Homo sapiens: one gene and its partners. The protein of the gene in region 4 interacts with the protein of the main gene of each other region in a pairwise test. Each region holds a gene or a part of one and is shown on either strand. Other genes may lie near its edges.

The links.
Region 1: the proteins of NUDCD3 (region 4) and KLHL29 interact in binary tests that used the Homo sapiens proteins (3 or more experiments, as listed by UniProt).
Region 2: the proteins of NUDCD3 (region 4) and KLHL26 interact in binary tests that used the Homo sapiens proteins (3 or more experiments, as listed by UniProt).
Region 3: the proteins of NUDCD3 (region 4) and KLHL15 interact in binary tests that used the Homo sapiens proteins (3 or more experiments, as listed by UniProt).

The regions. Positions count from the first base shown.
Region 1 is NC_000002.12:23,703,167-23,709,124, forward strand, and holds the end of KLHL29 (kelch-like protein 29), read left to right. Parts: intron 1-19; coding exon 20-213; intron 214-552; coding exon 553-697; intron 698-3,314; coding exon 3,315-3,498; 3' UTR 3,499-5,440; downstream 5,441-5,958.
Region 2 is NC_000019.10:18,633,156-18,640,027, reverse strand, and holds the start of KLHL26 (kelch-like protein 26), read right to left. Parts: upstream 3,001-6,872; 5' UTR 2,974-3,000; coding exon 2,891-2,973; intron 1-2,890. UniProt on the Homo sapiens protein: May play a role in endo(sarco)plasmic reticulum (ER/SR) mitochondrial signaling. May be part of the ubiquitin-proteasome system (UPS) and affect ubiquitination and degradation of target substrates in cardiomyocytes.
Region 3 is NC_000023.11:24,003,176-24,010,205, reverse strand, and holds part of KLHL15 (kelch-like protein 15), read left to right. Parts: intron 1-3,505; 5' UTR 3,506-3,512; coding exon 3,513-4,217; intron 4,218-7,030. UniProt on the Homo sapiens protein: Substrate-specific adapter for CUL3 E3 ubiquitin-protein ligase complex.
Region 4 is NC_000007.14:44,480,652-44,487,681, forward strand, and holds part of NUDCD3 (nudC domain-containing protein 3), read right to left. Parts: intron 4,634-7,030; coding exon 4,317-4,633; intron 1-4,316.

The DNA of each region.
Region 1 (5,958 bases), on a different chromosome or scaffold from region 4:
TTTTTCTCCTCTCCTGCAGGTACGACACCATCACCAACCAATGGGAGGCGGTGGCCCCTCTGCCCAAGGCAGTACACTCTGCTGCAGCCACAGTGTGTGGCGGCAAGATCTACGTGTTTGGTGGGGTGAACGAGGCAGGCCGAGCTGCCGGCGTCCTCCAGTCTTACGTTCCTCAGACCAACACGTGGAGCTTCATCGAGTCCCCAATGATTGGTGAGAACCAGCGGTGTCCTCAGCCCAGGGCCAGGGTCGCATCCCTGCCTTGCTGATTTGTTCAGTATCCCATGCCCAGAAGTCAGGCTAAGCCCAACAGCTCTGCAGACCCAGATCTAGAGGGTGGCAGGAGTTGCCGAGCCCCCAGCTCAGGTGTCTGGAGAGGGGCAAGTGAGTCAAGGCTCCAGGTTCCCCTAGGCCCCGGACCCATCCCCAGGCCAATCAGTCACTTGTTGGAAGTCTTTCGAGCTTCCTTCCCTGGAGGGTCTTCTGGGAAAGAAAAGGAGAGGGAAGTCCAAGACAAGCTGCCGTGACCTGCCTGCTCTGCTCTCCTCACAGACAACAAGTATGCCCCCGCTGTCACGCTCAATGGCTTCGTTTTCATCCTGGGCGGGGCTTATGCCAGAGCTACCACCATCTACGACCCTGAGAAAGGAAACATTAAGGCGGGCCCAAACATGAACCACTCTCGCCAGTTCTGCAGGTGAGAGGCTGCGGCGCCTTGACTAGGGCTGGGACGGAGGAGTGGGAGGAGGAGGGGTGTGACCACAATGATTTCCTGCCATCAGTGACCATAGCAATTCCCAGGCCCAGAGCAGTGGCCCTCCCCCTCCAACCACAGGAGTGGGCATTAGCCCAGACCAGTAGGGTGGAGCCCACGGCAGCCTCTGGTCCAGGAGCCCAACCCCGGGGCTCCAGCTGGCCCCAGCTCCAGCAGAAATGAACCATTTCCTGAAGGCATCAAGGCTACCCTGCTCTCAGTGAGAGGTGAGGTCAGCTTCCCCCAGGACCACCTGCCCCATCACAGACAGAAGGCAGTGCCAGGCCAGAGCTGTGTGATGCCCTACAGGGACAAGTGACTTCTTGGGGGAATGCTCTGAGGACATGAACGATCCTGATGGCTTTGGGAGCTGTGCTCAGAGTCCCAAAGGCTGACTGGGCAAAAGCACACACAAACCCACCCCTGCAGGCAGAGAAGGTAGAGGGCTGAGTGTGGCTCGGTCCCCAGGCTTTCTGGCCCTGTGGCAGCGAGACACCAGTCCCTGCTCTTCCAGCCCCATCCTTTCCTGGACTAAGAGGAACAAGGAATAAAAAGGGGCCCCAAGGCCAGGTGCAGTGGCTCACACCTGTAATCCCAGCACTTTGGGAGGCCGAGGCGGATGGATCAGTTGAGATCAGGAGTTCAAGACCAGCTTGGCCAACATGGTAAAACCCCGACTCTACTAAAAATACAAAAATTTGCCAGGCGTGGTGGCATGTGCCTGTAATCCCAGCTTCTCAGGAAGCTGAGGCAGGAGAATCGCTTGAACCCGGGAGGCGGAGGTTGCAGTGAGCCGAGATCGCGCCACGGCACTCCAGCCTGGGTGACAGGAAAAGACTCCGTCTCACAAAAAAGAAGGGGCCTCAGAAACCTCATTGTCAGGACTCCCATAGCAGATGCTTCCTGAAGACATCTTGTGCCTATGTAGAGGTAACTGCAGAATCTTCAGTGTGGGAATAGCATGAAGTACTTAGAGTGCCCATTGTTTGTGTAGCATAGCTAGAAAAGATATAACCTCCTACTAGCATGTCAGTGACCTTGGACATATCCCTTCACCTCTCTGAGGAAGTTCTATCTGTGAAACAGGCGGTTGGACCAGACAACTGCTAAGCTCCTGTTGGACTGAGATTTCACAATTCTTGAGCCATACTTCCATGTCATGTACCCTAATGGTGGCAGTGTGCAGAGCACAGTCTGACTACCCCGTCCACTGATGCAGACAACTGGAGCATTGCGCTCCACTTGGGAGGATGCTCGCACCTTCTCTGAGACTAGAAGTAAATGGGAAAGGGCCAGGCACAGTGGCTCACGCCTGTAATCCCAGCACTTTGGGAGGCTGAGGTGAATGGATCACGAGGTCAGGAGTTCAAGACCAGCCTGACCAACATGGTGAAACCCCGTCTCTACTAAAAATACAAAAATTAGCCAGGTGTGGTGGCAGGCGCCTGTAATCCCAGCTAACTCAGGAGGCTGAGGCAGGAGAATTGCTTGAACCTGGGAGGCGGAGGTTGCAGTGAGCTGAGATCACACCACTGCACTCCAGCCTGGTGACAGAGTATGACTCCGTCTCAAAAAAAAAAAAAGAATGGGAAAGACTTAACGGCAAATGGCAGAGTTAAGCTGGGTCTTGCAAGATAATCAGGTAATAGGTGCACCACAGAAGGAAAATATGAGGGCCCCAGATGGCATGAACTAAGGGAGAGAAGACTGGAAGCTTCAGGGTCTGGTAAGAAGTCCAGACTGATGTGTTCTCTTTAAGAGATTTCAGAAACGGGTGGAGCCTTTGAAAAGGTATGTGTCCAATGTCAGGGAATAGCCAGGAAGAAATGGCCATTAGCTGAAATGAAAGAGTGTCAGGGCTAGAAACAAGGATGTGGACGTCAGTGCAAAGAAGTAGCTGAAATGCATTAAGGGAGTCAGTGCAGAGAGGGGCCAGATGCTGAGCCCTCATGATGAGAGGAGCTGACTGAGACAACAGGAGCAAGCCAGTGAGTGTCACACAGGGAAGGGGTCCAGGCACAGCCATCGGTCACCCTGCAGAGCATGCCCGGCCCTTGCAATCCTGGGTGGGCAGCAGCACCAGGTCACACAGAAGCACCTTGGCAGGTGGAGCTCCCAGTCAAGTGGCTGACATTCAATTCCAGCTGAGCTCCTTATTATTCTCTCTCGTCATTCTTGTGAGTCATGTTCCCAATTTGATTTGAGCAGTAGGAAGGCTGCGTGTGCCACACAAGAGCCTCCAGAAAGCCTCAGTGACCTGAGCTGAGTGCCCGCACAGAGATCTTTCGTCTCCTAGCCATGGTTAGTCACTCTGGCGGGGCAGGGAGGGAGCGCCTTCTGCCGCTCGCAGGGTGGCATAGCACGGCTTCCTGACTGGCCCTGGAGGACAGGTGTTTTTCTTATGCCAGCCCAGGTTAGAGGGCAAAGAAGGGCAGCAAGATCCCAGATGCCTTCTGCAAAAGGCACAGGCAGCCTACAACAGGACACGACGTTGAGAACCTATCTCCAGGGCCAAGTTGGAAGTGAAATGCCTAACTCTGTCCCCGCTTTCCCCCAACAGTGCTGTGGTGCTTGATGGCAAGATTTATGCAACTGGAGGTATTGTCAGCAGTGAAGGGCCCGCGCTGGGCAACATGGAGGCCTACGAGCCCACAACCAACACATGGACCCTCCTCCCCCACATGCCCTGCCCTGTGTTCAGACACGGCTGCGTCGTGATAAAGAAATATATTCAAAGCGGCTGACATCAGCAGAAAGCCCACGATAAGACTGTGGACAAGTCTGGTGAGGCAAGTGCCACGCAATGATAATTTTCCAGCGACACCAACAAGAGGCCAACAAAACACAATCAAGGAACTCACTGCGCTCAACATGTTGAATATTCTCTACATTGAATGTAGAAAATCATCCTCGCCTTTGGATGAAACGGAGGCACCGCGCTTGGAGCCGCAGGAACCACGATCCCGCCATGGGGCTGGCTGCCTCCTGAACAGGGGCGCTCGCTCTGCCAGGTGCAATAGAGTTTCACGTATTTTTCAACTGGGAGAGAGAAGCTGTTTTTTCCTTCCTGCAGAGCAAGCTTGATCCCTAAACAACCATAGATCAGTTATCTTATGACAACATTAGGCATCAGGCTCTCTTGGAATAAGATCAAAGTGTCCTTATCACTTTGATTCCTACTTTTGTTTTTTAACCGATCTACACTTTCAGTGGCCGACAGAAAACGAGGGACAATACTGTGCATCACAAGGCCTAGGAGGCTGCTGGTCCCCACTGGGGCTGAAGAGAAGCCCAGCTGCCCACGCGGAGCCAGGGGTGGCAGCTGTGGGACAGCCGGGGAGCAGGGACAGCGGTCTGTCCTTCACAGGTTTTTCTACTGTGTTTTTGCTGGAGAAGGACAGTGATTGCGCTAGCTTTCTCTTACCCGGTATGAATTATTTAGATTTCTGAGGCATTTTCTTGATAAACAAAAGGCTATTTTTAAGTACTGAGAGGAGGAGCAGGCCACAAGAGGGATAATGTTGTGGGAATTCCCAAAGCTCTTTGTAGGTAGTGCCAGAGGGGGGCTTTTGCTCTCATTTTTCTATGTGCAGAATAGAGGATCTCTCCTGGGGTGGGCGATGCCCCCATTTTATTTTTAGAAAAAGTAACTCCCAGACAGCCCCATAAAAGCTGTGCCCAAGGAAGAAGAGTCTGCTCTAGAAGGAGCCCGGTTCTGGCTCAGGACACCGGCCCAGCTCCCTCCATGAGGTCAAGCTGAGGACCAGGCCAGTGGGAAGGGAAGGAGGGAGAATTAGCGTCTATAAAGCACAGGAGACTATTTTTGATATTCATAGCTATATATTAAGGCACCTGCCACAAGAGCTCTCAGGATGGGGACAGCCTTCTTAGTGGAGCCATGGCAGCAAGGCCTGAGGGCATGAACAGAACCACTCTTCTTGTCACATACGAACCTGAGAAAAGGGAAGCCAGGAGGGAGGTCACACCATGGCTCAAAAGGGAAAGGCCTTCCCACTTGTCCTTAGCCCCTCAAACCTCACACGGTCAACAGTTTCCATTCCAGGGCAGGAGAATGCTGCCGCCACTGCGCTGTTGAGTTGAAGTTGGTACCAAATACACATTTACCACTTTTATATCTGGGAAGTCAACTTGCCATCGTTTCATGATAACAACCATTTATAAGAGAAAAAGACAGGACACGCTTTCCATCGTTCAGTATTTGATGACACAAAATTCCAGTTCTAACGTTGGGCATCAACTTCTAGCACTACGAGTGTGGCTCCCACTTGGACAAGATACCGAGCTTCGTTATGCAGTTTTTAATATTATTTATTATTTTAAAAAGTAATAAGCACAAAACTACATACATTGTATGTCATTTAAAGTATTTATGTCAAACAGGGTGCAAGTGTGAACCCAAGGACTGGAGCACAAATTCCTAACTGCCTGGGGCAGGGCTAATGTTAGCATTGGTGTGCGTCTGCCTCCAAAGGAGGTTCTAGTTGTCAGCGAGACTCAACACAGATGACATTGAAATTCGTTTCTCTCCTCATCTATCACACTGGAGCAAAACTGGCTATTTCTGTGAATGATATAAAACAGGGTTCTCTGTAATGGTATTGTACATAGTATATGTTTACTGTTAAGTTCTTGTTATATTATAATAAATATATTTATAGATCTAGACTTGGAAGCCAACGTAATCTTTGTGTGCCATCGTCCTGCCACAGGGATGCAAAACCTGTTCTACCCCTCATACATCAGCTGTATGGGTTCTCTTATAGACTTTAGTGCAGAACTTAATGATTAGAAAGGATGGGACTCCATATTGAGGGAAGGTTTAGAGTTGAAAAGCCAAGAAGACAATTGAAGGTAAAAGTTGAAAGGGACTTGCAAACACGCTGGCACTGGCTCTGAGGCTCTTCCTTTCATTGAAGTGCTCTTCTTATTACACTTGTGCAACTGAAAGCTTCAAAGCTGTTAGCTTCCCACTGGTATCACTGCTGTGCCAGGGACCCACTTAGAGCCACATGGCAAGTCCAGCTCATGAGCCTAAGAGGAGACACAACACACTTTCTCCAGGAAGAGGAATACAGGGTGATTTCTTTTCTTTTCTTTTCTTTTTTTCTTTTTTATTGAGATGGAGTTTCACTCTTGTTGCCCAGACTGGAGTGCAATGGCGCGATCTCAGGCTCACCACAACC
Region 2 (6,872 bases), on a different chromosome or scaffold from region 4:
TTGTTTATTTTCACTCCACAGTGAAAAAGAACAAATTTCTGATACAACAACACAGATGAACTTCAAAAACATTATGTTAAGGAAAGAAACCAGACGTAAAGGCCACATGTCTGATTCCATTCTTACGAAATTTCTAGAAAAGGCAAAGCTACAGAGAGTGAAAGCAGATCAGGATGTCCCCGGGGCTGTATGTTGGTGGAGCAGGGTTAATTGCAGACGAGCTTGGGGGAACTCTTTGGGGTGATGGAAGCATTCCAAAAAACTGGATTGTGGTGAAGGATGCACAACTCAGTAAATGTACTGAAACTTAATGACCTGGGTTGAGCACAGTGGTTCACACCTGTAATCCCAGCACTTTGGGAGGCTGAAGCGGGCAGATCACTTGAGGTCAGCAGTTCAAGATCACCCTGGCCAACATGGCAAAACCCCGTCTCTACTAAAAATACAAAAATTAGCTGGGCATGGTAGCATGCACCTGTGGTCTCAGCTACTCGGGAGGCTGAGGCAGGAGAATTGCTTGAACCCAGGAGGCAAAGGTTGCAGTGAGCCGAGATCACACTACTGCACTCCAGCCTGGGCAACAGAGTAACTCTATCTCAAAAAAAAAAAAAAAAAAAAAAAAAACTTAATGATAAATTAAAATGAGTGAATTGGCTGGGTGCAGTAGTTCACGCCTGTAATCCCAGCACTTTGGGAGGCCGAGGCGGGTGGATCACCTGAGCTCAGGAATGCCAGACCTGCCTGGCCAACAGTGAAACCCTGTCTCTACTTAAAAAATACAAAAATTAGCCAGGCATGGTGGCGGGCACCTGTAGTCCCAGCTACTCAGGAGGCTGAGGCAGGAAAATCCCTTGAACCTGGAAGGCAGAGGTTGCAGTGAGCCGAGATTGCGCCACTGCACTCCAGCCTGGGTGACAGAGCAAGATTCTGTCTCAAAAAATAAATAAATAAATAAAAACAAAATGAGTGAATTGTATGCCATGCAATTAATTATATCTTGATAAAGCTGTTTATAAAAAAAGAGCCATGCCCAGCATGGTGGCTCACATCTGTAATCTCAGCACTTAGTGAGGGGTGAGGCAAGAAGATTGCTTGAGCCCAAGAGTTTGAGACCAGCCTGGCAACAGAGCAAGACCTGGTCTTTACAAAAAATTTAAAAATTAGCCAAGTGTGGTGGTGCACACCTGTAGTCCCAGCTACTCAGGAGGCTGAGGTGGGAGGATCACTTGAGTCCAGGAGTTTGAGGCTGCGGTGAGCCTTGGTGGCGTCACTGCACTCCAGCCTAGATACCTGGGTGACAGAGCGAGACGGGGTTTCAAAAAAATAAAAATAAAAAAAGCCCTAGCCCCAGGTTATCCCACTCCAGTGCCCAAGGCAGGGACCTGGGGTTCACTGTCCCTCTTCCCTGTCCCTTACTTGCCAACTGATACCCAATTTTCAAGCCCTGGCCACTCCCTGAATATCTCTGAAAATCCTCTGACATCTCCTGGCTCCCTACTGCAGGACAATCTTGCCCCACACCTACCCCAGGAGGCTGGTCACCCCTCTGGACACACACCTCCTGGGTTCCCCATGGCCCCTCTGGCAGACCAGATTCAATGCCCACAGACCTAAGTCTCAAGGTGCCACTCAGCATCCTCAGGAACAGGCAGGGCCTTTGCCTCCTCTGTGCCCTGGCCCAGCCATCCCTCCTCCCTTCCCCACCCATCCCATGCGTGTTCCATTCAGTACCAAATCACACAGCCAGGCCATCAGGCCATTCCCTCCAACAATCAGCCCACAGGTCCAAAACTCCACAGCACGTAAGTATCAAACAACTTCATCATTTATCATGTTGCCTGAAATTACTGGCTCCTGGAAGCTCACCAGCAAGAAAAAGCCTGAATTTCCTCCTTGGCCTGACCTGGGTGCTGGGCTAGAGGAGGAGCTGGGGTGGGAGGGTCTGGCTTTGCCCAATAGGAAAAGAGCAGGAGATCACACTCCTAAGGCAGGTGTTCTTTCCCTCTGACAATCCAATACAATGCATGCACACACATATCATTAGTTATTGATGATAACTAATTGTCATGCAAACCTGGACGTTCAAGCAATCCATGTCAGGACTGGGCCATGGGGAAAGGGGGCCTCCCTCTGACCAAAGGGGTGAATTCTGTCCCCTTGTCTGAGGGCAAGACCTTTCTGTAAGTCCTTTAGCCTGTTGGGGATGTGGATTTGGACCCCATGGGGATGGAAGGGAGGAGCCCCAAAGAAGAACCCTCTGTATGTTCTTTATAAACCCCCTGGAGTTCTCTCACCCCCCTCAGGTTCCCTAGACCCACCCCAGGCCCCCTCAGCCTCCCCATCTCAGACTCCCAGATTCACCTAAGTCCCCCACCCAGAGCCTCCCACAGTCTCTACTCCTTCCAGCGCCCCTCAGCACGCTCTCAGGACCACCTTTAGCCACCTTGGGGCCCTTCAGCACCTCCCAGGATGCCTTGGGCCTTAGCCCCTTCCTCAGAGCCCCCAAGACACCTCACCACCCTCAGACTGGCCATGGCATGGCCCCTGCTCAGGCCCTCTCTGCTGCCCAGGCCCTTTGGCATCCCCAGTTGCCCCACGGCCCACCACAGTCAAGAGCCCCTCGGTTTCCCTTCAGACCCCCAGGATTCTCAGGTCCCTAGGGCCGCCTGCAGACGCCTCGAGGTCCTGGGGCACCCAGCCCCCCTCCAGCCACCCCCTCAGTAGCCCTCGGCTCCTCCAGTACCCCACGGCCCCGTAAAGTCCAAATTCTCAGCGAAAGACCCTCGAGCCGTGCCAGGCCTCCCCTCAACCCCTCAGGACGCCCAAGACTGCCCACAGGTTTCCTGGGCTCCAAGACAGGTGCAGGTCTATCCTGCGGGCCGGGTCTCACCTGTTCGGGCGCTCGGGGCCCGGGCCCGCGCCGAAAGCGCCGCCGCCACCAGCACCACCGCTGCTACCGCCGGACTCCGCCATCTTCCCCCCGCCGTCGCGCGTTCGAGTGACGGGAGCCGCGCGCGCAGGCCCGGGAAACCGAGACGCGGGGGGCGGGGCGGGGCCAGGTCTGCGGAGGGGCGGGGCCGGGACCAGAAACCAAGGATTGGGGCGGGCCCGGAATCGGAGGGGCGTGGTCTACGGAGGGCCGGGGCGGGTCTGGGATAAAGGGAGGGGCCTGCTATGCAGAGAGGTGGGTCCAGGGCGGGGCCTGGGCTAGGGGTGCCGGATTGGGGCGGGACCCTGGCGTGAGGGGCGGAACCAAGTCTGAAAGGGAAGCGGTTCTGGGCTGAGAGGGCGTATTGTCTGTGGATAGGTGGGGACGGGGCGAAGCAGGACAAGTAGGCGCAGGATGGGGTTGGTCCCTGGGCTGAGGAGTGGGGCGGGGTCTGAAGAAGGGGCAGGCCCAGGGCAAGAGGAGGAGGGACAAGGGTCCGGCCTGCGGAGGAGGCGGGGCGCAGGATAAAGGGCGGGGCCAGGTGTGAGAAGGGACAAGGTGGAGGTTAGGAATGCGGTGGGGGAGTGGTCGGGGAGGTAGAAAGGAGAAGATGGGTCTGAGGTTGGGCGGGTCTGGGCAGGAGAGAGGAGGAATCTGGGGATGGATGTGGTCAAGCGAAGAGAGGGCCTGGTCTGAGGAAGGGCGGGGCCTGGGCGAGGGGTGGAGTCTGGTTGGAAGGAGGGCGGGGAAGATCAGGGGTGTGTGCGTGGAGGGGGCGAGGGATTGGCGGGGCCGGGGGGGCGGAGCCTCATCTGATGGGGGTGGGGCCGGGCTAAGTGAGCGGCGGATCTGAGGAGGGGCGGGGCACGTGCAGGTGTTAAGGAGTGTCTGTGAGTGCCCTGGGGCGCTGGCAGGCGTGCCCCGGGCGTTGGCTGGGCGTGGTTATACTTTGAGGCGTTGGAGCCACAGGGAAGTGAGTTATAGGTAGGGTGGGAGGGAGGGTGAGATGGAGCATGGAGAAATGGGTCTCTAAGCTCTGAGAACCACACCCTCCCTCTCCCCACCCTGCACACCCCGACTCCAGTCTTACCTCCTTCCCAGGCCTCTCTCAGGGGCGAAACTCACCCATGCCCAGGCCTCAGACTTCCAGCCCCTCATGGTTCCCCACCCTCCCCTGACATACCCTCTTCAGAGCCTCCACCCTGAGACCCCAATCATCTGGCCTTAGGTTCCCACCACCTGCTTCATACACCAATTCTGGTTTCTCATACTCTAAAACCCTGCACATCCAATTATCTCCCATTCTCTACTCAAAACTCATCTCCCACTCCCCCAAATCCCTGCCCACAGATCCTTCAAACCTTACACTCCCAAAGTCCATTCCACCGGACCCAACACCCTCAGATCCCCAAGCACCAGCCCTCCCAACACACTGACCCTCAGCCAGGGCTCAAAGTCCTGCATCTATAGGCGTCTATGAAGCATCTAGACCTTTTGGGGGCACCCCTCACCCCCCATCTCTGGTAAGCTCCAGGCTCCCAGGATCCCCTCTGTAGCTTGGAGCTCATTTATTCTTTTAACCTCCAAGTCAGAAAACTCTGACTTGTGCAGTCTTGGGCAGAAAGCAGTGATCCAGAAGGAGCTCAAAGCCTTCTTTCCCGTCAGTGCTGGAAGAAGGAGGTGGCTATGGGGCTGGAGACCCCATAGGAGGAAGGAAGGGGCCTGCTTGAGTGGACTCCTGCAGGTTGGACCGCACTCAACCAGCATCTCCAACAGAGGGCCTGATACAACAATACGTGCTCAATCGTTACACAAAATGCTCTCAGATGACCCTGTGCAAGCTGACAGATACCAAGTGCTGAAGGGAACTGCTGGCATCTCCAATACACAGTAAGCACTCTGCAAATGTTGAATGCACGCGTGCATGAACAGCTCACGTTCCGGCAAGCTCTGCACACACACACACACACCCTTGCCTGCCCTAAGTCAGCACCGCCCCAGGAGTCTTTGTTCCAGACGAACCACATGCAGGCATCAAACCTCACTCAGCAGCGACCTACAGCTGACACACCCGCCACAAATAACATTTGAAATCAATGGTGTCCATATGCACGCACACTTCATAAACATCCAGATTTGACCCATATGTCAGACACACAAGACACACAGCTGAAGATAAGAAAGAAGAGGTTCTCTGGGCTCCTGGCTGTGCACACACACATAGTGTGCTGTAGACTCACTGCACTTTGGACACACTGTGTGATCTGTCCTCCACGATCACATAGCACAGGGCAGCCAGTGCAATGTCCCTGGGGCAGGAGCGTGCCTAGAGAGTGGCCTGGCAGAGAAAAATTAGGAAGAGGGAGAGGAGAGGGGAGGAGAATGGGTGGGAGGCAACAGGAGGTGCTTCAGGTCACAGAGGGCTTTGGGGATCATTTTTGGGGTCCTCTGCATGAAATGAGAAGGGAGAGGGGGCTTGTAAGCAGTGGCAATGTAATTGACACTGGGTTTTTGTTTTGTTTTGTTTTGTTTTGTTTTTGAGACGGAGTCTTGCTCTGTGGCCCACCCTGGAGTGCAGTGGTGCGATCTCAGCTCACTGCAACCTCCGCCTCCTGGGTTCAAGCCATTCTCCTGCCTCAGCCTCCTGAGTAGCTGGGACTACAGGCATGTACCACATGCCTGGCTAATTTTTTTTTTTTTTTTGAGATGGAGTCTCACTCTGTCACCCAGGCTGGAGTGCCGTGGCACAATCTCAGCTCACTGCAATCTTCGCCTCCCAGGTTCAAGTGATTCTCCTGCCTCAGCCTCCCGAGTAGCTGGGACTACAGGCATGTGCCACCACGCCCAGCCAATTTTTGTATTTTTAGTTGAGATGGTTTCACCATGTTGGACAGGCTGGTCTCAAACTCCTGACCTCAAGTGATCCACCTGCCTTGGCCTCCCAAAGTGCTGGGATTACAGGAGTGAACCACTGTGCCCAGCATAATTTTTGTATTTTTATTAGAGACGGGGTTTCACCATGTTGGCCAGGCTGGTCTCGAACTCCTGACCTCAAGTGATCTGCCCGCCTCAGCCTCCCAAAGTGCCAGGATTATAGCGTGAACCACTGCACCCAGCTGACATTGGTTTTAACAGTGTCAATTTAACAGTGTTACAGTGTCTGACTGTTCAACAGTGTCTGACAACTGGGGGACAATATCTTGAATTTGGGACATGAGTCAGGAGGCATATAATCCAGGGAAAAATGGGTAGGGCTCATCCCAGGGTGACAGACATGGAGGGGTGGGAGGTAGTCCTAGTTGAGATGCACTTTGCAGGTGGGACCAAAAAGAGATGGAACAGATGGGATGTCGAGTGAGGCAGAGTGAGGCCAGTGACCTCTGCCAGAGCTGTTGGCCTGAGCTCTAGAGGCCACTATCACTGGCATGGAGCAGAGACAAGTGGAGGACCTGGAGGGCCCACGCCGGTGACTGCACACGCCTCATCCAGTAATGATGACCTGTGGTCTAGCAGAGCCGGCAGGCAGGGACATAGCAGGCAGCATCCACGGGCCTGGCCACCATCTGGCCCACAGCTGGCACGGCTCTCCTAGAGGCAGGGCCCGCGCCACCTGCTCTCCCACTTCAGACCAGCTGCAGGGCTCACACCCTCAGGTCAGAGCTTGGAGGCCTCCCTTACAATCCCCAGGTGTTATGGAGGAGGAAAGTGAAGCCTTGGGGGAGGGCTTCAAGTTCCTGTGGTTTTAGGCTGGGGACAGTGTCTGCCCCATCAGGCAGTCACCACGGAGTGGTCCTGGGGCAAGCCCAAGGTCCCCCGACATCAACTCCCTGTCCTCAGTCCTGTTTGATTTTTCTCCTATCTAACAAACTCTGTGTTTTACCTTTTTTTTTTTTTTTTGAGACAGAGTCTCGCTCTGTCACCAGGCTGGAGTGTAATGGCACAA
Region 3 (7,030 bases), on a different chromosome or scaffold from region 4:
AGTTAAGATTTCAGATGTAGACCAGTTTTGGATCAGGAACAGGTCCAAGTGGGGTGGGAGTAGGGTTTGCAATGGAATAAGTGGGGAGGTTGTAGGAGTTGAGATGGTCAGGGAGTTTTGACTTACAGTTTTTGGATGGCTGATCTTATGTGAACATTGAAGAGGTGTGAAAGATGACTTAGCCAGGTGTTGAAGTCTTTTTTTTTTTTTTTTTTTGAGATGGAGTCTTGCTCTGTTGCCCAGGCTGGAGTGCAGTGGTGCGATCTTGGCTCACTGCAGCCTCCGTCTCCCAGGTTCCAGCGATTCTCCTGCCTCAGCCTCCCAAGTAGCTGGGATTACATGTGCCAGCCACCACACCCAGCTAATTTTGGTATTTTTAGTAGAGAGGAGGTTTCTCCATGTTGGCCAGGCTGGTCTTGAACTCCTGACCTCAGGTGATACACCCTCCTCAGCCTCCCAAAGTGTTGGAATTACGGGCGTGAGCCACTGAGCCCGGCTTTTTTTTTTTTTTTTTTTTTTGAAAATGGAACCTCGCTCTGTCGCCCAGGCTGGAGTGCAGTGGTGCAGTCTTGGCTCACTGTGACCTCCACCTGCTGGGTTCAGGAGATTTCTCCTGTCTCAGCCTCCGGAGTAGCTAGGACTACAGGCGCCCGCTACCATGTGCGGCTAATTTTTGTATTTGTTTTGTATTTTATTTTATTTATTTTGAGACGGAGTTTCACTCTTGTCGCCCAGGCTGGAGTGCAGTGGTGCAATCTCAGCTCACTGCAACCTCCGCCTCCCGGGTTCAAGTGATTCTCCTGCCTCAGCCTCCCGAGTAGCTGGGATTACAGATGCCCGCCACCATGCCTGGTTAATTTTTATATTTTTAGTAGAGATGGGGTTTCACCATGTTGGCCAGGCTGGTCTCAAACTCCTGACCTTCAGGTGATCCACCCATCTCGGCCTCCCAAAGTGTTGGGATTACAGGCATGAGCCACCACGCCCGGCCTTTAATTTTTGTATTTTTAGTAGAGACAGGGTTTTACCATGTTGCCCAGGCTGGTCTTGAACTCCTGATCTCAAGTGATCCGCCTGCCTCAGCCTCCCAAAGTGCTGGGATTACAGGTGTGAGCCACCATGCCTGGCCCAGGTGTTGAAGTCTTCATCAAATGTTTGAGAGTGATTGATCAGAAGATGTGTATGGAAGTGACAAGGGGTGACAGAAGATGGATTTTTATCTGAGCAAAAGGCCAAGTTATAGAAAAAGAACAATAGAAAGCTAAGAGAAAGAAGACTTGGAAAGTAGGGCTGTAAGCTCTAAAAGTTTTTTTTTTGTTTTGTTTTTTTTTTTTCTAACACGCGTGGGAGTAGAGCTAGAGGTTGGAGGCAGGAGGCCTGGAAGCTGTGACTTTTAGGAAAACTATGTCTCATTTAAATCAGGTCGAGGAGGGAACTTTCTGTGACCAACCTGAGCATGTAGGGGATTTTGTTTACATTGAAGTAAGGTTCCACAGGGCACAGTGGAAAGGTTTGGGAGAGAATTCAGGGATGGAGGATGGGTCATTGGGGAGGAAGCCGGGAGCTGTGTAAGGATGAGAATTAAGAAGATAGATGGTCTGGGGTGGGGGTATGTGAAAAGGAGAAAATTAATTTGCTTCATAAATAACCCAGTAGACTGAATTAGTGGCCAGGCGCAGTGGCTCACGCCTGTAACCCCACCACTTTGGAAGGCCGAGTCAGACGGATCATCTGAGGTCAGGAGTTTTAGACCAGCCTAGCCAACATGGCGAAACCTGTCTTCACTAAAAATACAAAAATTAGCTGGGCGTGTAGCAGGTGCCTGTAGTCCCAGCTACTCGGGAGGCTGAGGCACAAGAATCGCTTGAACCCGGGAGGCGGAGGTTGTAGTGAGCCGAGATTGTGCCACTGCACTCCAGCCTGGATGACAGAGCAAGACTCCGAAAACAAAAAAATAGACTGAATTAGTTTATTCCGCTGTATTTAAGATATCTAATTATAGTTCTCTATTTTACCTTCATTTCTCTGATATGGAAAGATTTGGTTTAATTTCCTTTAAAATTATATATTTGTATTTTTAAATATATAAGCATTACATCATTATTGTTTTTCAAAGTAAGGGTAATGAGGTAAATGAAAAGAAAGCCTCTCCTGAAAACCTACTACCCAGGGACATTATTTTGGTATATATTTCTCCAGACTTTTTCTCATCTAACAAATATATGCGTATTTAGTTTTCGAAGACGTACTCAGTATACTGCAGTCACTTGTTTTTTTTTTCATACAATATCTGATAAATATTCTTTGTAAAAATAAACTGTTGACATCATTTTAAATTGATAATTTATTGTAGGACTGTATCATGTTTTAATAATTTGTTATTGGACTTTTGAATAGTTTCTGATTTTTAAATAATAAGCCTAGATAGAAAAACCTTATATGTACAACTTGCCTATTTATTTGAATATTTCCTTTAGGTAAATTTCTAGGAGTTTTCAGGTATACTTTTTAGTTTCATTTTTGTCCCTTTTCTCATTATTTAGTATTTGGCTGTGAAATCATTTTTATGTTGCTAATTTTGGAACCTGTTCAAAGTATATTTGATGAACAATATGAAATCAATGGAATAGGCATATATTATTTGTAAGATAACAATTTACCATTGTTTGATATATATATATATATATATATATATATTTTTTTTTTTTTTTTTTGGAAATGGGGTCTTGCTGTCTCCCAGGCTGGCATGTAGTGGCATGATCTTGGCTCACTGCAACCTCCGTCTCCCGAGTTCAAGCGATTCTCCTGTCTTGGCCTCCTGAGTAGCTGGGACTATAGGTGCATGCCACCACACCTGGCTACTTTTTGTATTTTTAGTAGAGTTGGAGTTTCATCGTATTGATCAGGCTGGTCTTGAACTCCTGACCTCAGGTGATCCACCCACTTCGGCCTCCCAAAGTGCTGGGATTACAGGTGTGAGCCACCGCGCCCAGCCGACATATATATTTTTAAGAGATAGGGTCGTGCTCTGTTGCCCAGGCTGGAGTGCAGTGGTGCTATCATAGCTCACTGTAGCCTCAAACTCGTGGGCTGAAGGGAATCTCCCACCTCAGCCTCTGAAGAAGCTGGGGCTGCTGGCAATGTGCCACCATGCCCAGCTACTTTTTTTTTTATTGTTATTATTTTGTAGAGACAGGGATTTGCCATCTTGCCTAGGCTGGTCTCCAACTCCTGGGCTCAAGCGATCTTCCTGCCTTGGCCTCCCAAAGTGCTGGGGTTATAGGCATGAACTATTGATGTATCTTTAATAGATTCTTTTCCTTAGATAGGGAAGCCAGAAATATTAGTCTGCAAACCTTTAGATTGTCTTCTCCCAAAGGACTTGTACATTTTGGACTTAGTCAGTAGAATTGAGATAATAGCAAAAATTGTTAAAACTCTAAGTTAATATTTTCTTCTGAATGCATGGAAGTGTTTAACATTGTTGTCTTTGATTTTTTTCCAGGTGATTCATGGCAGGGGACGTGGAAGGATTCTGTTCCTCCATCCACGACACCAGTGTCTCTGCTGGGTTCAGAGCACTGTATGAGGAGGGATTGCTTCTTGATGTCACTCTGGTTATTGAAGATCATCAGTTCCAGGCCCATAAAGCACTCTTGGCCACCCAGAGTGATTACTTCAGAATTATGTTTACTGCAGACATGAGGGAACGAGATCAGGACAAAATTCATTTAAAAGGTCTAACAGCTACCGGTTTCAGCCATGTCCTGCAATTTATGTACTATGGAACTATAGAGCTGAGTATGAATACCGTTCATGAGATTCTTCAGGCTGCCATGTATGTTCAACTTATAGAAGTGGTGAAGTTCTGCTGCTCTTTTCTCTTAGCGAAGATCTGCCTAGAAAATTGTGCAGAAATTATGAGACTCTTAGATGATTTCGGCGTAAACATCGAGGGAGTCAGGGAGAAGTTAGACACCTTTCTGCTAGACAACTTTGTGCCACTCATGTCTAGGCCTGACTTTCTGTCCTATCTGAGCTTTGAGAAGCTCATGTCTTACTTGGATAATGATCATCTGAGCAGGTTCCCAGAGATAGAGCTGTACGAGGCTGTGCAGTCTTGGCTGCGGCATGATAGAAGACGCTGGAGACATACCGATACCATCATTCAGAATATCCGGTTTTGCTTGATGACCCCAACCAGCGTTTTTGAGAAGGTTAGTGCATTTGAAAGCAATAGACAGTACTCATCATTTAGTTAAGGCAGTGTATGTCTTTATAGATAAGATTCACAGACTTAAGAGCCAAGAATGAATAACTTCATTTTGTTATTTCTTATGTTATTCAAGAATGAATAACATAAGAGTACTTTATGTATAAGAAGCCTGATTTGTTGTGCATTTAGGTTTTGTAAAATACATTTTGTGGGTGAAAGATAAACCACGTAGGTAGTAAAACAGTTTTATTTTAAAAGTACTTTTAAAGTTGAAGCATAATTACTTTATGCAAAATATTACATGTTTGCTGTAGCTTTTCTTTTCATTTCATCAATTAAATCGGAACCGAGTCAGGCTAGATCTCTTTTTAAAAATAAATTTAAGTAATACATGCAGAAATTGGCATTGAGAAGAGTTCTGCATGGTATACATTAATAGAGTTTCTTATTCCTCTAAAATATAGCAAGGACGTACAAAATAGCTCTTGAAAACCAATAGGCCCTAATGGTGATTTTCTTCCCTGCTCTTACCTTCTGGTTTTCCCCGTTTTACTGTGAATACTAACTAAATTTGACAATGAAAACATGTTATATGTCTAAAAACATCATTTTGGCATTTCTAAACAAGTAGACTATAACTCTTCTATCTACATTGATCAACCATCCCTGGGCACATTTTACCATGCAAATAGTTCTCTTAAAAATAGTCTTTCTCTGAAACAGCCTTGGCCTTTTTTTGCATGTAAGCATTTTCATTTTTATATCAGAGTTTCACTTGTGATCCTTTCTTGCCCAAAGGTCATAGAGCACTTTTAGTAATTGCTTAACTTAATTGGTTTCTAATCACATGGTTACCTCTGGGGCTCTGTTTACTTCTTGCATCTTCTCTTTTTTCTAGAAAGCACACTGAAAACTTGGTCGGTCACTTTTCATGTTAAATAGTTCCTCAGCTTTAGTTATTAGACCTGGTTATAAAAATACAGTATCTGCAAAGGAGGGTTGTCTACGCCATTTGAAAAATAAACCCATTTGCGCCTTTGAATAACAGCAGCCTGACATATTTTTTTTTCCTCCAAAATGCTGTGAAACTGAGAATTCAGTTTTGTGGATTTTTGTCTTTTATTCTCAATGTATTGATGTGGCAGAAATAATTGAAACTAAATTATATATATGTATGTATGTATTTTTTTTTTTTTTTTTGAGACAGAGTCTCGCTCTGTCGCCCAGGCTAGAGTACAGTGGCGTGATCTTGGCTCGCTGCAAACTCTGCCTCCCAGGTTCAAGCGATTCTCTTGCCTCAGCCTCCCGAGTAGCTGGGATTACAGGCGTCAGCCACTGTGCCTGGCTAATTTTTGTGTTTTAGTAGAGACAGGGTTTCATCATCTTGGCCAGGCTGGTCTCGAACTCCTGACCTCATGATCCACCCGCCTTGGCCTCCCAAAGTGCTGGGATTACAGGCGTGAGCCACCCCACCCAGCCAATAATGTATTTCTTTTATTTTTTGTTTAGTGATAATCAGCCCCACATCAATTATGTAAATCATTTGTCTCTGATGTTTTGATTTTTTTCCTATTGTTTTTATTGCTCTTTTTCCCTGGGGAATCCTGTTTTGTTTTGTTTTTGTTTGTTTTGTTTTGTTTTGAGAGGAGTCTCACTCTGGCCCTGGAGTGCAGTGCTGCGATCTCAGCTCACTGCAGCCTCCACCTCCTGGGTTCCAGCAATTCTCATGCCTCAGCCTCCCGAGTAGCTGGGATTACAGTTACCCACCACCATGCCTGGCTAATTTTTTGTGTGTGGAGATTCTTAATTCTTCCTTTGGTAGTAACAGATTTGAACAGTGACTTAATAGTGTAGGGAAGGGGGCATTCTGCCTCAACCCAAGGAAAAGCCCCCATTCGTTCTAGGGACACAAGTCATGTCCTCTAGCTGTGCTGAAATCTTTGGGTTTATCCTTCTGCAGTATCTATGTAGTCCTCTACTGGATTTTCTCCTTAGGTGAAGATAAGATTGTCTTAACTTTTTTTTTTTTTTTAGTATACTTTTTTCTTTTTTAATATTTAACTTTTTTTTGTAGAGATAGGGTCTCACTGTTGTCCAGGCTGGTCTTGAGCTGGCCTGAAGTGATCCTCGTGCCTCGGCCTCCCAGAGTGCTGGGATTATAGATGTGAGCCACCGTGCCTGGCCAGATTGTCTTAATTTTTGTACTAAGTATTCTGTGGGACCATCATCGAAGAGGCCAAGGCTTCCAAATTTCCTGAGTTCCTTAGAGGCAGCAATACTGTTTATCTGAACACTGCATGTGCACACGAGCACACACACACACACACACACACACACACACATATATTTATGCTAGGTCATGTACTAAGTGCTCTTACCGTACATATAGGTAGCATCTACATGGTTTTTTTTTGTTTTTTTTTTTTTGGTTTTTTTTGAGACGGAGTCTCACTCTGTTGCCCAGGCTGGAGTGCGGTGGCACGATCTAGGCTCACTGCAAGCTCTGCCTCTCAGGTTCACGCCATTCTCCTGCCTCAGCCTCCTGAGTAGCTGGGACTACAGGCACCCGCCACCACGCCCGGCTAATTTTTTTGCATTTTTTTTTTTTAGTAGAGACGGGGTTTCACTGTGTTAGCCAGGATGGTCTTGATCTCCTGACCTCGTGATCCGCCTGCCTCGGCCTCCCAAAATGCTGGGATTACAGGGGTGAGCCACCGCGCCTGGCCATGCATCTACATGTTATCCCCATTTTATAGATAAGGAAACAGGCACAGAAAGGTTAAGGATCTTATTCCAGACCAAGTGGCACTGTCC
Region 4 (7,030 bases):
CAAAAAATGGCCAGGCATGGTGCCTCACACCTATAATCCCAGCACTTTACGAGGCTGAGGCGAGTGGATCACTTGAGCTCACCAGTTCGACACCAGCCTGGGCAACATGGTAAGACCCTATCTCTACAAAAAATACAAAAATCAGCTGGGCAAGGTGGTGCACGCCTGTAGTCCCAGCTACTTGGGAGGCTGAGGTGGGAGGCTCGCTTGAGCTCAGAAGGCAGAGGCTGCAGTGAGCCAAGATCATGTCACTGCATTCCAGTATGGGCAACAGAGCAAGACCCAGTATCAAAAAAAAAAAAAAAAAAAAAAAAAATCCAAAAATTTGAAAAAAAAAAAAAATGGATTGTTTTGTCTGTGCTGAACATGTACAAACTTCTTGTCATTATTCCCCAAATAATACAGTGTAACAACTATTTACATAGCATTTACATTGTATTAGGGATTGTAAGTAATCTAGACATAATTTAAAGTCTATGGGAGAATGTGCATAGGTTATACACAAATATTATACTGTTTTATATAAGAGACCTAGACATCCATGAATTTTGGTATCCACGAGGGACCAGGAACCAATCCCCTGCAGATACCAAGGGATAAGTGTATTTATTAAGAGAGTTACTGCAAGAAATTGGCTTACATGATTGTGGGGGCTGGCTAGGCCAGTCTGAAATCCACATAGCAGGCCAATGTGGAACTCTCCAGAAACTGAGTGCAGCTGCTGTCCATCGGAGAAATTTCTTCTACTTCAGGGGAGCTCTGCTGCGCTCTTCAGGCTTTCAGCTGATAGATCAGGCCCACTCAGATCACCTAGGACAATCACCCTTACTTAAAGTCAACCAATTATTAACTTGCATCACATCCACAAAATACCTTGACAGCCATGCCAAGATGAGTGTTTGACTGAATAACCAGGACTGTAACTTAGCCAAACTGACAAATGAAACTGACCATCACAATAACCATGTCAGTAGTCTTTAAAAGCATTTTATAAATGTATTTCTCCATTCCCTTACTACAGAAATTCAGCATTCTTCCAAAATTTTGCTAATATAAGTAATGTTGGAATAAATAGAACTGAAGTGAACAATGCTATAGACTGAATGTTTGTGTCCCAAAATTCCTACGGTAAATCTTAATCCCAAGATATTGGGATGAGTACTTTGGGAGGTGATCAGGGCTCTGCCTTCATGACTGGAATTAGTGCCCTCATAAAAGATTTGAGAGAGTTCTCTCACCTCTTCCACCATTTGAGGACACAGCAAGGTAACTACGAATCAGAATGTGGGCCCTCACCAGACACTGAATCTGCCAGTACCTTGACCTTAGACTTCCAGTATCCAGAACTGTGAGCAATAAATTTATGTAGTCTATAAGCCACCCAGGCTATATTATTTTGTTATAGCAGCCTAAGTGGACTATGACAAACAACTTTGTATATTAAATCTTCATTCTTACATCTGATTATTTTACAGAAAGACTACTAGTAAGGAGGCTGCGCATAGAAAGAACTCCAAAAAACCTCATAGGATCCCCTTGAGTCTTTGGCTGAATACAAAACTGCACATGTGTAAAGTGCAACTCCATGAGACAAGTAGGAAACCTGGGTAACTGACATGGACAATCCCTAGAGCTGGGAGACGTTCAAGCCTCAACCAGTCAGAATGGAAAGACCTCACTAACAGCTGGAGCACTCAGAAGCCCCAAAAAGGCATGTCTTAGAAGACTAAGCTAGCTTTAAAATAAAAGTACCCTAGATACAGCTTAACAAAGCTGAAAAACAAGGCCAGACACATTGGTGCACACCTATAATCCCAGCACTTTGGTAAGCAAAGGTGGGAAGATCATTTGGGACCAGGAGTTCGAGATTAGCCTGGGTAACATATTAAGACTCCATCTCTACAATCAATTGATCAATCAATACAAATAAAAAACAAGCTTCAAAAAGATCATTCTGATCAGCAAATAAATTAATTGCCTGCAAGAACAAAACTCAACACTCAACAGAAGAAATCAAAACCCAGAGACTCGACAGCATAACATCCATTAATGTCTAGCATCCAATAAAAAATTATCAGACATTTGAAAGAAAAAGAAAATGTAACCCAAAATCAGGAGAAAACTCAATCCCTAGAAACAAACCAAGAAATCACAGAGATAATGGAATTAGCAGATAAAGACTTTAAACTATTGTAAGTATATTGAAGGATTTAAAGGAAAACCAAGGTAGAAATTGAAGCCATAAAAAACAATCAAGGGGAACCTGCAGGGCTAAAAAATAAACTATCTGAAATTAAGAAGTTACTAGATGAGTTTAACTACAGATTAGACACCAAAGGAGAAAAGACAGTAAAGTTGAAGACAGGTCAACAGAAAATATTCCAAAGGAAGGACAAAGAGAAAACAGACCTCCTAAGTGTGTGTGTGTGTGTGTGTATGTGTGTGTGTGCTCAAAAGTCTCCCAATAGTATAAACACAAGGACTATCATGCATGAGTAAATCTTAATCAAATTGCTCAAACTAATGATAATAACTTCAAGGAACTGATATAACAAGAGAATGGGGATATTTCACACACAGGGGAACAAAGAATGTCTACTCACTTCTCATCAGAGACAGTGCAAGCTAGAAGACAATGGAATGATAGTCTTTAAAATGTTTGAAGAAAAACAAAAACAAAAAAAAAGTGTCAACCTGCAATTCTATATCCAGCAAAAATATCCTCAGAAATGGAAGATGAAATAAAGGCATTTTCAGACAAAAAAGCTGAAAGAATTCACTATCAGCAGATCTGCACTATAAAAAATATTTTAAAAAGATCTGCAAGGAAATATCAGATGTCTGCCTTCCACCCTATACTCCCCACTTCCAATCTCTAAATCCTTATTTCACCCCTTCTCATCCAGAGCTCCATATTCAAGAGCTGCTCCCCTTCTCCATCAGCTTGGTTCTGCCATCAAACAATTGTTTTCTTCGAACTCCATTAGTTAGCCTGGACTTTAAGACTCTGCAATCTTGCCCCTCCTGTCTTTACAAAACTTATTTTCTCTTACTCCATATTTTATAAGCCATTCCAAGTTGTTCACTTTGCTTCATTAACTAGAAAAAAAAACAAAAACTCCCCCACAGCCTAGGCAATACAGCAAGAAAATATTTTTAAAATTTAGCCAGGTATAGTGGCAGACATCTCTACAAAAAATTACAAAATTAACCAGATGTGGTGGTGCATGCCTATGGTCCCAGCTACTCAGGAGGCTGAGGCGAGAGGATTGCTGGAGCCCAAGAGTTCAATTCATATATTGCGCTATGATCACACCACTGCACTCCAGCCTGGCCAACAGAGTAAGATCCGGTCTCTATTAAAAAGTGTGCACGCACACACACAATCTCCCCCAAAACACGTCAGAAAGAGAGTAAAGGAGTGAGAAAAACAGAAGAGAACTCAAGGTGGCAGGGATTTGGGGGCACACAGGTGACCCATCCTATCAAGGAGGGAAGAGAGTGAATTTTCCAAAAAAACAAAGCAGGCCAGGAGGCTCGTGGCTGTCTTGCAGACACTACTACAACTCCCACACAAGAAGGGATCAGCTCCTCTCACTCAGACTGTAAGGAAGGACTGTATAACTAAGTTTAGAGCACCCACAAAACATAACTCCTAAAAAGTGAGTACAAGTACATAAAGCAAGAGGCTTGATTCAGGGAAACCTCATGTCATATTCAAGCTCTACTGCTCATTAGCTGCTTGACTATCGGCTCATTTAAAATTCACAACAGCTCTATGAGACAGGTACTATTATTATCACCTACATTTTATAGAGAAGAAAACTGAGACACAGAAAGGTTATACTGCTTGTTCAAGGTAATACATTCAGGAAGCGGCATAGCGAGGATGTGAATCCAGTCACCTAAAACAGACTGTCATTTCAGGTGTCCATTATACCTCAGGCATCATGAGCAAATCCTAGCAGTGCTCCTGCAGAGAGAAAAACACAAACAATCGAGCTGCTGAGGCTAAGCCTCTAAACACAGATAAAGTTAGGTCTTTGTGAGAGGAGTCAAGTGCTCTAATTTTGGCTCTGGATCTCAAATGGTTGTATGACTACTGACCTTACCAAATGAGGGAACTGACCTTAAGCCAACTGACCTCCCATCCTACATAACTGAAAGACTGTAATGCAGCAGTTTACAAACATGAAGAGCTAAATAAATACTGAGATCAAGAATTAATGTGTTACAAAGTAAGAATAAATTATGGAGAAACCCAAACACCAGATGTTACGCAAGAAAGAAGGAAGCTGCAAAGTAGAAATTCCCACCTGGGAAGAATTGGTGGTTCCCTAGGGACTTCAGCAGCACCAGCAACTGCTCCTGGAGCTTCTGCCTCCTGTGAACCATGGGCCATTTCCTTCACAGGGCCTGGAGGCTGCACTTTCTCTACTTCCTGATGCCCATCCAATTCTGTGGTGGAGTCAATCTCTATTTCCTGGACTGGAACTGGGACTGGCTCCTTCTCAGCTGCAGCAGCTGACACAGTCTTGGCCTCTTCCTCTTCCTTTCTTCTGATTTTCTCTTCAAGTTCCTGCCTTCTCTTCTCATCATCCTGACGGGCCATGTGGTCAAAGGTTTTGAATACCTAAAATCAAACACCAATCCAGCAATCAGTTCATCTGCCCAATACTGTACCACATATCTTGTAGAAATGTCGTAAAATCTGTGAAGGAGAGAACTAAAAGTCAGAAACTGACAAGTTTTCCCACTGGCAAAATGGAAATGCACTGCCACTTCACCAAAAGCTGACAGGTAAACAGTGTTTAACAGGAGGATTCCAAAATCAACAAAATCAGAAACTTATAAGCCAAGGCTAACAATATTTACATACCTAAAAGATGTACAGTTAGATGGTCTTTGTTGTCATTATTTTACAGACCCCAGTCTTGTTCACAATGCAAAGAATACACGGTCCTGGTACAACTGTGGGTTATAAAGGCACCAAAATTCAGACTCACAAATGAAACATGAAAATATGGCTGAACTTCAATTCCCAAAATGGAACCAGGTTTACAGGACTGCTGCTGTTTTTCACCACACTGCATGGACATTCAATTCAACAAACATCTACTATGCGCCTACAGTGTGCAAGAAACACGCACGCACAAAAAACATCAAAATGATTTCTGCTGCCTCCTAAGAACTCAAAATTCTGGTGTGTAAACAAGTTCTTAACATTTTCTGGGAAACAGTCACACCCATGAAGGTGCTGGGACCTCTCTACCAAAAAAGTACAGTCAAGACATACCCACACATGAAAACTCTGATACAAGAGGGGGCATGACAAGGCCCTCAATTCCCTGTCAGGGTATGGGTGGGAATGAGCATGTCTGGCGAAAGAAATCTAGGGAGACTTCTTGGAACAAGGAGGATCCCAGTTAGACCCTGAATGAGAGGCACATCTTCCACAGGGAACCACTGGAGGAAATGCCACAGCTCTAAGAATAGGCTTGTCAAGGAAGGGCAAAAGCTCTTGCAATAACTGGAGGAAGGAAAGGCTGAGACAGCAACCTGGGACATGGGTGGGAGTCAGATTCCAAAGGGCTAGAATGCGGACAGGTATTAAATAACAATGTTCTGTGCACTGCGCGGGCAGTCAAAAGGGTGCTAACAGACTAACTGTGTCAAATTATTTTACAAACATTCTCTCAAAACCCTCACAAAAATACTGTGAAGAAGACAGCATCAACATTTCAAAAATGAGAAAAAAATAAGGCTTGGAAAGGTTACGTAACTTGCCCCAGCTCCTGCTGGCAAAAGAAGTAAAAAACTACGCAGCACACACCAAACAGTGTGGGGAGATGATGATGTAGGCAGAGGGGAAAAAAAAAAATCAATAAAATCCTAAAAGGTTAAAAACTGGAAACAACACCAGAACCATTTTTACTTCTGCAGATAACCTGAAGCCCTGACTTCATTCTAACATTAGGGTCTCTACCGCTTTGAGTCCATGCTTTCAGAGTTGCTCATCCTGCTGATACTCCAGATCTTCATCTTAACTCCACAAAAGCAAAGCAACAAGATCTCTCTCTCCTAACACCTGAGACTTCGAACACAGAACCCCCAGACTTGATAGTCCTCACCATGCAGCTGCCTCTGCTCACTCAGTACATCCAGCCTTCTCTGACCTACCCATTCACACCACCAGGAAGTGCTACCACTGCCAACCTCCCAACTATCACATGTTCTCAGTACTCATTCTAGAGTCACAGAACATAGGGCTGGAAGAGAACTCTAATCTGTAACCTCCAATCAATCTTCTCAGCTGACAAGAGGTGAAGTGACTCTCCCAAGATTTCTCAACAATTTATGTAAGGAACAGGATGTAGCTAGCTTTCCTGATTCTAGTTTCAAGGACTTCTACAAAGGAGCACTTCTCAAAGTGGACTCCAAAAAAAACAGCATTATCGATTATAATGAATGGCTTGTCAGTCTAAACGATTTTTGTCTTAAAACATACTAATGTATTATAAAATGGAATGCAATTTTCACATACATCATTCCTGCTGAGGTTCTTCAAGCTGTGTATCCAGGCTATGCAAACTTTTAAAAGGAAACGTATGAGCTGCCTAACTCTACACCAACACTGTACTCCCCAAAATATTAAGGGAACGCTTTGAAGTTCCACAATGATGCAGCCCAGCACTCCCATCCAAATTCTTCTCTGCCTATATTCAGCAGAGACACCAAGCATCCCACATCTGGTGGGGGTGGAGAGGCAGACCCCAGGAAGGAGTCTTATGCCATCAAGTTAGGGACAGAAAAAAAAAAAAACCCTAAGAGGCAGATGAGTAGGAGTGGGGAGGTCAGGAGATCACCTACTACCACGAAGAAATAATGTTATGCTGGTACCAAGTCACTCAGTCTCATTCAGTGTTGTCCCACCCCACAATAAAACCCTTGTCAATACTGAAATCACCTTTACAAACCTCCTGTCAAATGAGCTTTTGTGGATAAAAGAACAGGTTCCAGCCAGGTGCAG